Homo sapiens: one gene and its partners. The protein of the gene in region 3 purifies or fractionates together with the protein of the main gene of each other region. This does not show direct contact. Each region holds a gene or a part of one and is shown on either strand. Other genes may lie near its edges.

Region 1 (3,651 bases), on a different chromosome or scaffold from region 3:
AAGGACACTACTTTTTTGACAGCATTTTCTGTTTTGTGTTCCAATTAAAGTTTCCACAGAGAAACTTTAAAAATGTGTCATTTTCCTAACAGGATGAATATGATATATTTTGGGGGGAAGAGTTTGCAGTAATCTCTGGTCTTTGTCCCCCCTTATTAGTGTAATTGGAAAAAAAATTATTACCATCGTTACATTTGAATCTTCTTTATTTTTCTTTTGCTACTGGAATTTTCTTAGAAACACAATAGGAAGTAAAATAGTTGAATGCGTTGTGATGAAATACGGCTCAGTTGGTGTCCTCCTTTTAATTTTTAAATCTCTTCCTAAGCCATTAACACCAGAGTCAACACAAATACCTTTAAGATGAAGTCAAATTTGCCTCTTCAAGAACCTGTCAGTCCTGCTCTTTCAGGTTGCCAGGGAAGACTTGTGAAAGGCAATCCAAGCTCTCATCTGCCTGGCCTGCCTTTACTGCTTCCTCCCTCCTTCAGATCTTGGGAGTAAGGAAAGGGCCACGTTATAGCAAAAACCTATTTATTTGTCACTTATTTCACTCTTGCTCATCTTATTTGATAAATTCTCTTTTTATTTTTGGTAATGCTCCCCTCCTCACATCCAGTTGAGATTAGGCAGTAGTTCATGGGGGGAAAAAAAGAATGATTAAGATTATTAGTGAGCTTTACATTTGTGAAAGGAATTGGAGAAGGAATACTAATAATATTTGAGAAAAATTTCTGTATGTGAGGCATTGTGCTAGATGACCTCAAAGAAACATGCAGTCTAGTTATTAGTACGATATAACTTGTAGAAGAATCAGAGTGTTTATCATTTGGGGAGAAGGCTAATTTCTTTAGAATAGTGAAGGAGAGGCCGGGCGCGGTGGCTCACACCTGTAATCCCCAGCACTTTGGGAGGCCAAGGCAGGCGGATCGTGAGGTCAAGATATCGAGACCGTCCTGGCCAACATGGTGAAACCTTGTCTCTGCTAAAAATACAAAAATTAGCTGAGCATGGTGGTGTGTGCTGGAGGCTGAGGCAGGAGAATCGCTTGAACCTGGGAGGCGGAGGTTGCAGTGAGCTGAGATCGTGCCACTGCACTCCAGCCTGGCGACAGAATGAGACTCCATCTTAAGAAAAAAAAAAAGAATAGTGAAGGAGAGAAGAGCCAGCAGTGAATGGGGAGAATAGCAGGAGTAAAGAACTTTATGAGTTCATGAGAACCTAAGGCTCAGTATTTGAAAATTACTGACTTATGAGAAAGCAGGCATGTAAATAAAAAATAAAAAATGTTGGCCCTAGATTTTGATATGTGTGTGGTGTGTGGTGTAGGAGAGGCCCTGATATTTACCTGTAAGTGTTAGAGTTGTATGAAAAAGGTGGCAAGATTGAGTAGCTTAGGGCATGTGGTGTGGAGGCTGTATGCTAGAGTTTTGGCATTAATAACTTGTATTTTCTGGGTTTTGGCATTAATAATTTGTATTTTCACTCCCCAAATATTTTTCAAGCATCTACTTCATGCCAGACCTTGTTCTAGATACCGGAGATACAACAGCAAAAATACAGATCTTGCCCTTATGAAGCTTAAATTGTTGAGGCAGGCAGACAGTGATAAATAAATACATAGAATGTTGGGAAAGAAAATAAGAGGATTTGAGAGGGTGGAATGGGGAAGAAAGGATTCACTGATAAGATGCCATTCGAGCTAAGACCTGAAAAGGTGATCTCTAAGGTGAGGAAAGAGCTTTCTACACAGAAGGAACAGCTGGGGGAAGGGAGCACGCTTGGAATATTTAAGGAATATCAAGGAGGGAAAAGTGGCTAGAGTAGAGGAAGAGAATGGAAGAAGTCATGTCAAACAGGTACTAATGGAAGAAGTCATGTCAGACAGGGTCTTGCCCATTGTAAGGACTTTGGCCTTATACCTCAGCAAGCTGAGCAGCCGTCGGAATGTTTTAAGCAAAAGAGTGACACCATCTTTAAAAGGGACCCCTTGTAAGGATTCAGAACAGACTTGGAGGGAAAACAAGTAGAAGCAGCAGGGGGACTAGTTAGGAGGCTACTTTAATAAATCCAGGCAGAAGATGAACTAAGGTGGTAGTGATAAGATATGTGAATATGTATTTGATACGTATTCAAAATACAGGATTCTGAATACATTTTTAAAGGTAGAGCCAACAAGATGTGCTAAAGGATAGAATGTGGGGTTTGAGAAAAAGGGGAGTCAAAGATGACTTAACAGTTTTTAGAGGGCCAGGTGCAGTGGCTCAAAACCTGTAATCCTGTAATCCCAGTACTTTTGGGATTGAGGCTGAGGCAGGAGGATCACTTGAGTCTAGGAGTTCAAGACTAGCCTGGGCAACATGGCAAAACCCCATCTCCAGAAAAAAAAATTTTTTTAATTAGCCGGGTTAGTCCCAGCTACTTGGGAGGCTGAGGTGGGAGGATTGCTTGGGCCTGGGAGGTTGAAGCTGCAGTGAGTCATGATCACTCCACTGCACTCCAGCCTGGGCGACAGAAGGAGACCCTGTCTCAGAAAAAAAAAAAAAAAAAAAAAAAAAAAGTGCAGCCTGGGCAACATGGTGAAGCCCCATCTCTACAAAAAATTCACAAAGTTAGCTGGGTGCGTTGGCATGCGTCTGTGGTCCCAGCTACTCGTGAGGCTGAGATGGGAGGATTGCTTGAGCCCTGGAGATCAAGGCTGCACTGCGTTATGATCATGCCCCTGCACTCTAGCCTGGGTGCCAGAGTGAGGCCCTGTCTCAGAACAAATCAATCAAACAAACAAACAAACAAAAATACATGGATATAGAGAGAATGAGCAGCCTCATAGGACAGCTGAGAAGATTTACTGAGCTTTTTAATGGAAAACATAAATACTTAAAATGAGTTTGTCTTTATTATTGTGACTATTATTTATAATTATCACAAAAGGCAATATGGCAGAGACCTGGGTTTAAAATTCTTGCTTTAAAACTTACTATTGTATTTTACGCCTAAAATACATATTTGCCGTAATTCTGATCTCTCAGAGCCTTAGTTTTCTCATGTGTAAGTTAAGGATAATAAATTACCTTGTGAGAATTAAATTAAGATAATTTAAAGTACTTAGCAGAGGCATGGTACATAAGATAAAGTAAGTGCTTAATAAATGGTTGCAGATGCATGATGCTAAACTTTTGCTCTCGGTTATCTCCTCATCCCCAGAGAAAAGCATAATCTTCAGTCATGAACTTTTCTGAGGCTGGAGCATACAAGTGCCATCCTGAGGCCATGCAGTGTAATATTCTGGGTCTGACCCAGGCACTAAGAGATATTTAATGGGAGTGAATGGTTGCCTTCAGTGTCAGCCTCAGAACATTGAGGATATACTTCAAGTGTATTTGCTTTCCTTTTAATAACCCAGTAGGTATCTGTTACCTTGAAATTCATATAAACTTTTCTGAATGTGTTTATCTTAACTTTGCATTACATCATGGGTAACAAATTGTGTAAATTTACTAACCACATTATGAAATGAATCCTACATTTTATTTGGCTCTTTAAGCCACTTCCTTTACATGTGGAGCAGGTGAACTCCATTGTCATATGGTATAATTTTGTCAGCAGGTTCATTTTTCATTCTACTCATATTCTTGATAATTTCATAATCTT
Region 2 (3,651 bases), on a different chromosome or scaffold from region 3:
ATATTTGATTTACACAAAAATAATATAGCTGGAGTGTTCTAATAAAGCAGCTCTCTGCCCACTCAAAAAAAAAAAAAAGTTCTAATTTGACAATTCTGTAGTATTAGTAAGTGCCGTCTTGGCCAATTTTTAGCTCCTAACATGACATGGCTGAATGTGGAGTTGCAAAGAGATGTCCGCAATTGATTCTTGAGAGCTCTCATGGGCAGGTTCCACCACACTCCTAATGTAAGTATATATGTTATGAAGCATAATAATAAAGACCCATGGGACCTATCCCTCAACTTAGGAACTAAACAATTCCAATATTATTGTGACATTTTTGTTTCCTTTTGTCAAAGTTATTTAAATGTTTTGCCTTTGATGTGGCAAATACATAATAGTGCTTAATGTGCACCAGGAACTGTTCTCTTTGTTTGACTAAGTCCTTTAATCCTTATAGGATTTCTATGAAGTAATGTTATTATCATTTTACAAATAAAATTACGCATAGGGAAGTTAAGTAACTGAGGCCACACAGCTAGGAATTGCCAGAGCCAGGACTCTAACCCGGGTGGTCTGACTCCAGAATCTGTGCTCATAACTACTACACACACTACCTCTTTTGATGTTTCTATTTATAGATAAACTTTGCTTATATTATTTGCTTATATTCTAGAGGATAAAGGTTTACATTTGACTGTAAGAGGAGTATATCTCTAGGGCAGTATCAAGAGTGCTATTGTTGGTTATACATTCCAATTTTGTGGATTTCAATTTTATTATTAAATTTCTCTTGAGAAATTTTCAAAGTCTATAAGTCTACTTTAGAAATAGTTGGCTTGCAGTCTTCTTTTCTTTTGTTTTTGCATACGTTGCCCTTTTTTGTGGGTATGTGAAATTGACAGTGATTTCTTGAGAGTTCATTTCAGCTGTTTTGAATTTTTAGTTTTCTGACCTCTATTTCAGCAGCAAGTGGCAGTTCAGGAGATGGTTATTCCACATGAGTGATTGGAAACAAAGATGTGGTGATGGGCATATATTTGTTGATGTTATTAGACACGTACAAAGTCAGCTGAAGAAAGAATACCAAGAGCTTGAAAAGGAAAAATGCATAAAGGTTTAATGCAATGGTGATAAGAAATGCTTTGTTATTAAGTTTAAAAATAAGGTATTAGCATCCACTTTTCAGTCTAAAAGAGAAAAGATGATAGAAAAGATGTGCATTTTCTTATTCAATTTAGCCTTGCTTAATTGCTATATTTTTGCTTCAGTAGAAGATACTATTTGTATTGTGAATTAGAGTAGAACTATTTTTCACACTAATGAAAAGTTTAAATTGGCAGACAGAGTAAGAGAAAAGAAACCATGTGTTAAAAGGTAAACTGAGACATGATAACTTTTAACAAGTTTATTTGAGCAAACAGTGATTCTTGAATCAGGCAGCTCCAAACCAGAAGTGGTTTGGGGGCTCTGCAGTGGAAACACAAAGCGGGGAGGCTTTATAGGTCTAACAGAAGTAAAACAAAGTAAATATTTGATTGGTTACAGTTATAAGATTGTCTAATTTGACCTATCCTGCTGGAAGGTTACATAAGTTAGTTGCATAAGTTAGCTGACAGCTTCTGATTGCTTAGTCTTAAGTTTCTTTTTTAAAAAATATCGATATTTACCAAAAAAATAGCCCAAGTTAAGTGTTGCATATGTTTGCAAATGAAGCAAGGTTAAAGTCTCTTATGAGGCCTAACTGGTTTTGTCTGCTTAGGGATTCTTCAGGCCAGGTCTCCGGTCTAATTTACTTTAACAGGAGGTAGAGGAAATGTAACCGATTGAAAGAATTTTATCTGGACCTTCCACATAGGTAAGAGTCTCCTTTTGAAAATCTTTTACTAAATGACATCTCAAAACTTACCTTAGCAACACTTTTTTGTTGTTGTTGTTGTTTGAGACAAAGTCTCACTGTTTCCCCCAGGTTGGGGTGCAGTGGCACAATCTCGGCTCACTGCAACCTCCACCTACTGGGTTCAAGCGATTCTCATGCCTCAGCCTCCTGAGTAGCTGGGATTATAGGTGTGCACCACCATGCCCAGCTAATTTTTTGTATTTTTAGTAGATACGGGGTTTTGCCATGCTGCCCAGGCTGGTCTTGAACTTCTGAGCTCAGGCAATCCGCCCGCCTCAGCCTCCCAAAGTGCTAGGATTACAGGCATGAGCCACCGCGCCTGGGCAACAACACATTTTTAAGGTTTAGCTATCACAAGCTGCTAATAAAGTCAAAGTACATGTGACGTGAGGGAACCTGGTGGTAGTAAGTCTTGCCATTTAACTAGCTGTGTTGTGGGCAAATTAACCTCTCTGGATCTTGTTTTATAAATAGAAAGGCTGGTATCTCCCATTTAATGTTATGATGGGGTTTAAATGACAGGATTTGGAACTTCATGGATAGTTTGATACTTTTTTTCATATTGACAGGAAAAGTTTAAGGTCAAACAGTGATAGAGCTGGAAGGGATCTTAGTAATGTCATCCCATTTCACATTTTGTAGGGGAGGAAAAGTCAGCTCTGTAGCAGTTATCAGTGAGTGAATTTGAAGTCAGACAGCATGGTCTGTGTAAGGTACCCCTTACTCTTTCTGAGCCCTGTTTCCCCTTACATCTTTTAAAATCTCTTTTCCAAGTCAAAGTGCTTTTTTGACATCTATCCCTCAGTTGAATCATTATTATTCTCCTCAGTTGAATCAATATTAATAAAGCAATATGTACTATACTGTGTGAGACACTGGGACCTTTTTGGTAGATGACCTCATTTTCTGCCGCTATGAGACAATCGAGTCCCTGACTCACTCACCATCTGTTCCAGCCTCCTAGTATGCCTTCTGATAATGCAAAGGCTAGCTAGCACAAAAACTACACTTCCCCAATCCATTGCAGTGAGGATTGTGGATGTGCTTTAGATTCCACCAGATGCACTTATGTAAGGCTTGAATTCAAGGTAGATAAGAGAGTGAGGCATGTGAATCATCTGTTCTACTAGTGTGGGTCTAGCACAGACGTTTTACTGTGCATTAGAGTTATCTGGAGGGTTTATTGAAACACAGATTGCTAGGTCCCACTTCGAGAGTTCCCAGTCTGGAGAGGAGCCTAAAAAGTTTACATTTCTGACAAGTTTCAGGTACACCCTCTTTGACAGTCTGACAACCTGAGATTCTGGAAATTGGAGAAACATTGTCTCGTATCTAAAAGAAATGCTTACAAGAGAGGATCTTTTCCACTCAAAATCTGTATACAAATATTGCCACATGGATATTTTAAAATTTATTTAATGGAGACTCCAAGTATACGTACTTTCCTATTGTGCTCTTCAACTCTACAATTAAAGTGGCCCAGAAAAATACAAAGTACTGCTGAGAAATTCTCCAAAGAAAGGCACATAATTAAGAGCCTTAATTAGAAACAAAAATATAGTCCAGCCTGGTTTTGTTTGATGTTAGGGGCTTTTGTTTGGTGGTTTAAGGGAGGGGAGGATGGGGTGAGCTTTGAGGAACAGAATTACAAGGGCAAACCATGCAATGTGCACTAGTCTTTGAAAGGTTTAGGAATCTAAAAAATTTTTTTGGTGATATTTTCCTTTTTCTTTTTGAGTGATCATTTTTTTTTTTTTTTGGTTATCTTT
Region 3 (4,249 bases):
GCACTTATAAAAGGTTCTCAGGTTCTGCTGCTGCTGCTAGTCCAGAGACTACATTTTTGAGAACCACTCTTGTCTACTAACTGTAAATTGTAGAACTCTAGAACAAAGCTTAGTTTGGTGTAGGAAAAGACGCTCACAGGTTATGGAGCAAATCATGAAAGATTCAACCCTTGATCCCAGCCTAGTGTGGAATTCAGGTAACAATCAATACACAGTGACATAACACAATTCTTGGTTTTCATGATTGCAAGTCATAGCCAAGTATCAAGTGAGAAATTCAGTTTCATTTGCAAGGCTTAGAGAGGCCAGGTGATTCTAGAAAAATAGGCCTTGTATTTGCTTTAAACCAGTAAAGAGCTTTGAGTGCTTATTAAATGGAAAGCTTTGTGTTTTTATTTATTTTTGACTATTTTATTTTATTTTTTTGAGATGGAGTCTCAGTCTGTCACCCAGGCTGGAGTGCAGTGGCGTGACCTTGGCTCACTGCAACTTCCGCCTCCCGGGTTCAAGTGATTCTCCTGCCTCAGCCTCCCCAGTAGCTGGGATTACGGGTACCCACCACCACACCTGGCTAGTTTTTGTATTTCGAGTAGAGACAGGGTTTCACCATGTTGGCCAGGCTGGTCTTGAACTCCTGACCTAAGGTGATCCACCCACCTAGGCCTCCCAAAGTGCTGGGATTACAGGTGTGAGCCACCACACCCGGCCCAAAAGCTTTGTGTTTTTAAAGATATTAGACATGTTTCTTGTTTTTTAAAAAATCTTAATAATGTAGGAGAATAAGAGAAATGTTTTTTCCAAAGCCGAGAAATCATTGTGATTATTTTACCTTATTGGGATGTTGGATAATATAGTCCACTTCATTCATTAATCATCAAACATGCTATGGATTTTCCATTTTTATAGGATTTGTGTCTTAACTGGGGTAATACTGGTAATTCTTATACTCCCTCTGAAGATGAAAAATGTAGGCCAAAATCATAGACCATGCATAGAAGCTGGATAATGAAGACAGCTCTGGAGGAACATGTAGACACACACACACTGACACACATATATATAAAGTATAAATACATATTTTTTTAAAGTTTATTTTTAACATTTTAAAGCAAAAACCAGCCCTCCCCTCTCCCGGAGTAGGCAGGCCCCGCCCCTCTCCCCAAGTGGGCAGGGACAGCAGTCGCATGGGCAGCTTTCCTTGTGATGTCACAGGTTCCTCTGGGCACACTGCTGCCTGGCCACGCCTCCTTTCCCTTTCATCTTTCTCATTGACCAATGGGATTGGAGCATTAAGGCCACACCCCTATTCTGCATTCTAGTGTGGCCCTGGTTACGCCTCCTCTGGCTCAGTCACACAGCAGCCTTGTAGGTGACTGGAGGTGTTCGCTGATGTGGCCCCAACCCTACCTCCCTCCCCACCCCATGATGTTAGAAGAATCTCGACAGAATAAATTGGCAGCAGCCAAGAAAAAGGTAAAAAGCCAAGAAAAAGGTCATGGCCCCCCAACCTAGCCAGAGATCCCCTCTGATGACAAGACCACTCCCAGAGTCCATACCACTCCTGAGGCACACCGGGCTGGGCCCCCCTACCCCGGCGCCTCTGGACTCCCCCCACCAACGTCTTGTCAGTCAGCCCCGCCCCTTCAGCAAGCAGCCCAGCCTCTGCCCTCGCCAATCACCCTGCGGTGACTTTGGGCGGATGACTACTGGGGATACCTGCTCCATATTCAGCCCTCACGTCCTGCCACCCCAAGCCCAACCTCCCTGGGTTCTTTGGGCTCACCTCTCCAAGGACCTGGGTCCCCCAGCCCCAACCCCCCAGCATCGCCAGTCATCCCGGGGTGACTTTGGGCTGGTGACTCCTGGGGTTCCCTGAGCAGACTCTGCTCTCCCCTCCTGCTGACCCAAGCCCGACCTCCCTGGGCTCTCTGGACTGGCATCTCCAAGGACCTGGGTCCCAGCCCCACGTCCCCCCTCCCCCATCGTGGATCGGCAACTCAGCCATTGCACTGATGAGGTTTCCCCCACCCCCAGGAGGAGTGGAATGTAGTGATGTCACAGTCCTCCTAGGAACTGTCATTACTGCTGCAAGACCGGCCTTTGATCTTATAACCCAGTCCCCTAAGCATTCTCACCCCATTTCTGGTTCCTCTGGTCACAGCACAAATTTCCAGCTAGAAGGGAAATGGGGACCATGGGACCTAGGAGCAAGAGGTTTCAGGCTGCCTTACTCCCTTCACATAGACATCGACAGTGTGAAAAGCCTACACTTCCCCTGTGAGCTCAAAACGTTGACAGTATCTCTGGGTGGTAATGGGAGAATGGGTTTGGTTTGGTTTTCTCCCAGGCTTCTACTCTCCAGAGAGACTTTAACATTTTTTTCCGAGTTCTCCACCTCATATTCTAATTCTCCACGGTTCTGGGACCAGACTGCCCTTCAGTCAGTGGTCTCTGAAGTGAGATTTGCTCATCTTCTGTGGAATAGGTCTTGGGAAACTGAACTTGACAGCTTGAATCTTCCTCATATCATCTCAACTTAGGGTACATTGAGTGCCACAGGATAAATGTGGGAGATCTTTCTGAAGCATCAGTTTCCCTTGATTCTCTTGAGAGAGAAAAAACATTAATGTACTTAGGGGTGACCCTCACATAGGTTTCTAAGAGTATACCAGACTTCTCTCTGAAATGAGACTTGGGTTGTCCTCTTTCTGATAAATTCCCAGATTTAACAAAAAAGCTGCCTTCTGCCATGAGGACACATTGATATAAAAGTTTGAGAGATACTGGTGCACTTCTTCACACTAACAGGCATTTGAGGATGTATGACTCTAAACCACACAGCGTGTAGTTCATGCCTATGTAATGTTTACTTTTCTACCTCTGCGTCTGGTTTTGGTCCCCGGCAGCTGCTGATTCATGGCAAAACCCCAGAGCTTGGAGTCAGAAGACTGAGTTTAAGTTCCATTATTGCCCCCCCACACTTTTTTTTTTAGCCATAATATCCATCCCTCTCAGTCACTTAAGTGATTGTGACAACACCTTGTACAGTTGTTGGTGGCATTAAATCAGATGGTGTATAAGAGTATTTTGCAAAAACTGTAAGGAGGGTGTGGCTGTAAGGGCTGGTAGTTCTCATGAGTATTACTGCTCTTCTTTCCCACAGCTAAAAGAATATCAGCAAAGGAAGAGCCCTGGTATTCCAGCAGGAGCAAAGACAAAAAAGAAAAAAACTGACAGTAGCCCTGAGACAACCACTTCCGGTGGTTGCCACTCACCTGGGGATGTGAGTCTTGGCTGGCCAGGCTCCTGGGGACAGGGGGCCCAAGGGGCAGTAGAGGGTAATTGTTGAGATTGCTGGGTACTGGTTAAGAATTCTGGGTTTGAATCCTGCTTCTTCATCTGCTAGCGATCTGATTTATGGCAAGTTGCTTGAGCTCTTTGGGCCTCTCTTTTCACATCTGTAAAATAGGGGTAGTATTGTTTGACTTCCATTTGTGAAGTTTAAATGAGATTCCTTATTGTTGTTGTTTTCATGTTAACCCCCAGTACGTGGCCTGCTGTAAACACCCAGGATACCCAGGAAATGGTCATTGCTGTTTGATTTTCCTGATCCCCACTCGCAAGGGGAAGCTGGGCTAATGAGTACAGCCACTTGCCATCAGGCTGTCCCTCTAGGAGTCACTGAAGGGGGCCCAGGGTGTGGTGAGGAGAGCCCAAGGCACTAGGAGCAAGAGAAGGTCTAACTTGCCACCAGCTTGCTGGGTGACCACAGAAAAATCACTTCTTCTGCTGGGCCTCAGTTTCCTCCTCTGTAAGATGATACTGGATAAGATCAGTGTCTTTCAAACTTGTTTTTTAGCTGAAGTCCCCTTAGTTCAAGTGAACTCTTACTCAGGAGTCTGTTTTTTTTTAATGGAGGTGGAGGTCTGGAGCTCTACCAGATTCATCGCCCATGTCCTGGGCCTGAGGAGAGGGGTCCAGTGAGCGTATTAAGATCTGCATTGGTCAGCTGACTCCACTCTGTGACTGCGTCACTCGGGGGACTTTTCCATCTATTTTTTCCTGCCCCTGGCAAGGCAGCAGGTGGCCATTTGGAAGAATGGCACAGGCCATGGTTTTAATCTCCTCTGCTCTTCTTCAGCGTTTCCTTTTCCTGAACCCACATCTTCCTCCTACCCTGACTTTCTTGCTTCTCTCTAAGCCACTTCTGTCTTTCACCCCCTGCCCTTGTTTTTCCCTTGTCACCTCC

Evidence for each region.
Region 1: the proteins of GOLGA6A (region 3) and STRN purify together in Homo sapiens (affinity purification with mass spectrometry; one large-scale study listed by BioGRID and IntAct). This does not show direct contact.
Region 2: the proteins of GOLGA6A (region 3) and MSANTD4 purify together in Homo sapiens (affinity purification with mass spectrometry; one large-scale study listed by BioGRID and IntAct). This does not show direct contact.

The regions. Positions count from the first base shown.
Region 1 is NC_000002.12:36,960,025-36,963,675, reverse strand, and holds part of STRN (striatin), read left to right. Parts: intron 1-3,651. UniProt on the Homo sapiens protein: Calmodulin-binding scaffolding protein which is the center of the striatin-interacting phosphatase and kinase (STRIPAK) complexes.
Region 2 is NC_000011.10:106,012,135-106,015,785, reverse strand, and holds part of MSANTD4 (myb/SANT-like DNA-binding domain-containing protein 4), read left to right. Parts: intron 1-1,744; exon of another isoform or gene 1,745-1,840; intron 1,841-3,651.
Region 3 is NC_000015.10:74,079,650-74,083,898, reverse strand, and holds the start of GOLGA6A (golgin subfamily A member 6A), read left to right. Parts: upstream 1-1,348; 5' UTR 1,349-1,389; coding exon 1,390-1,473; intron 1,474-3,163; coding exon 3,164-3,283; intron 3,284-4,249.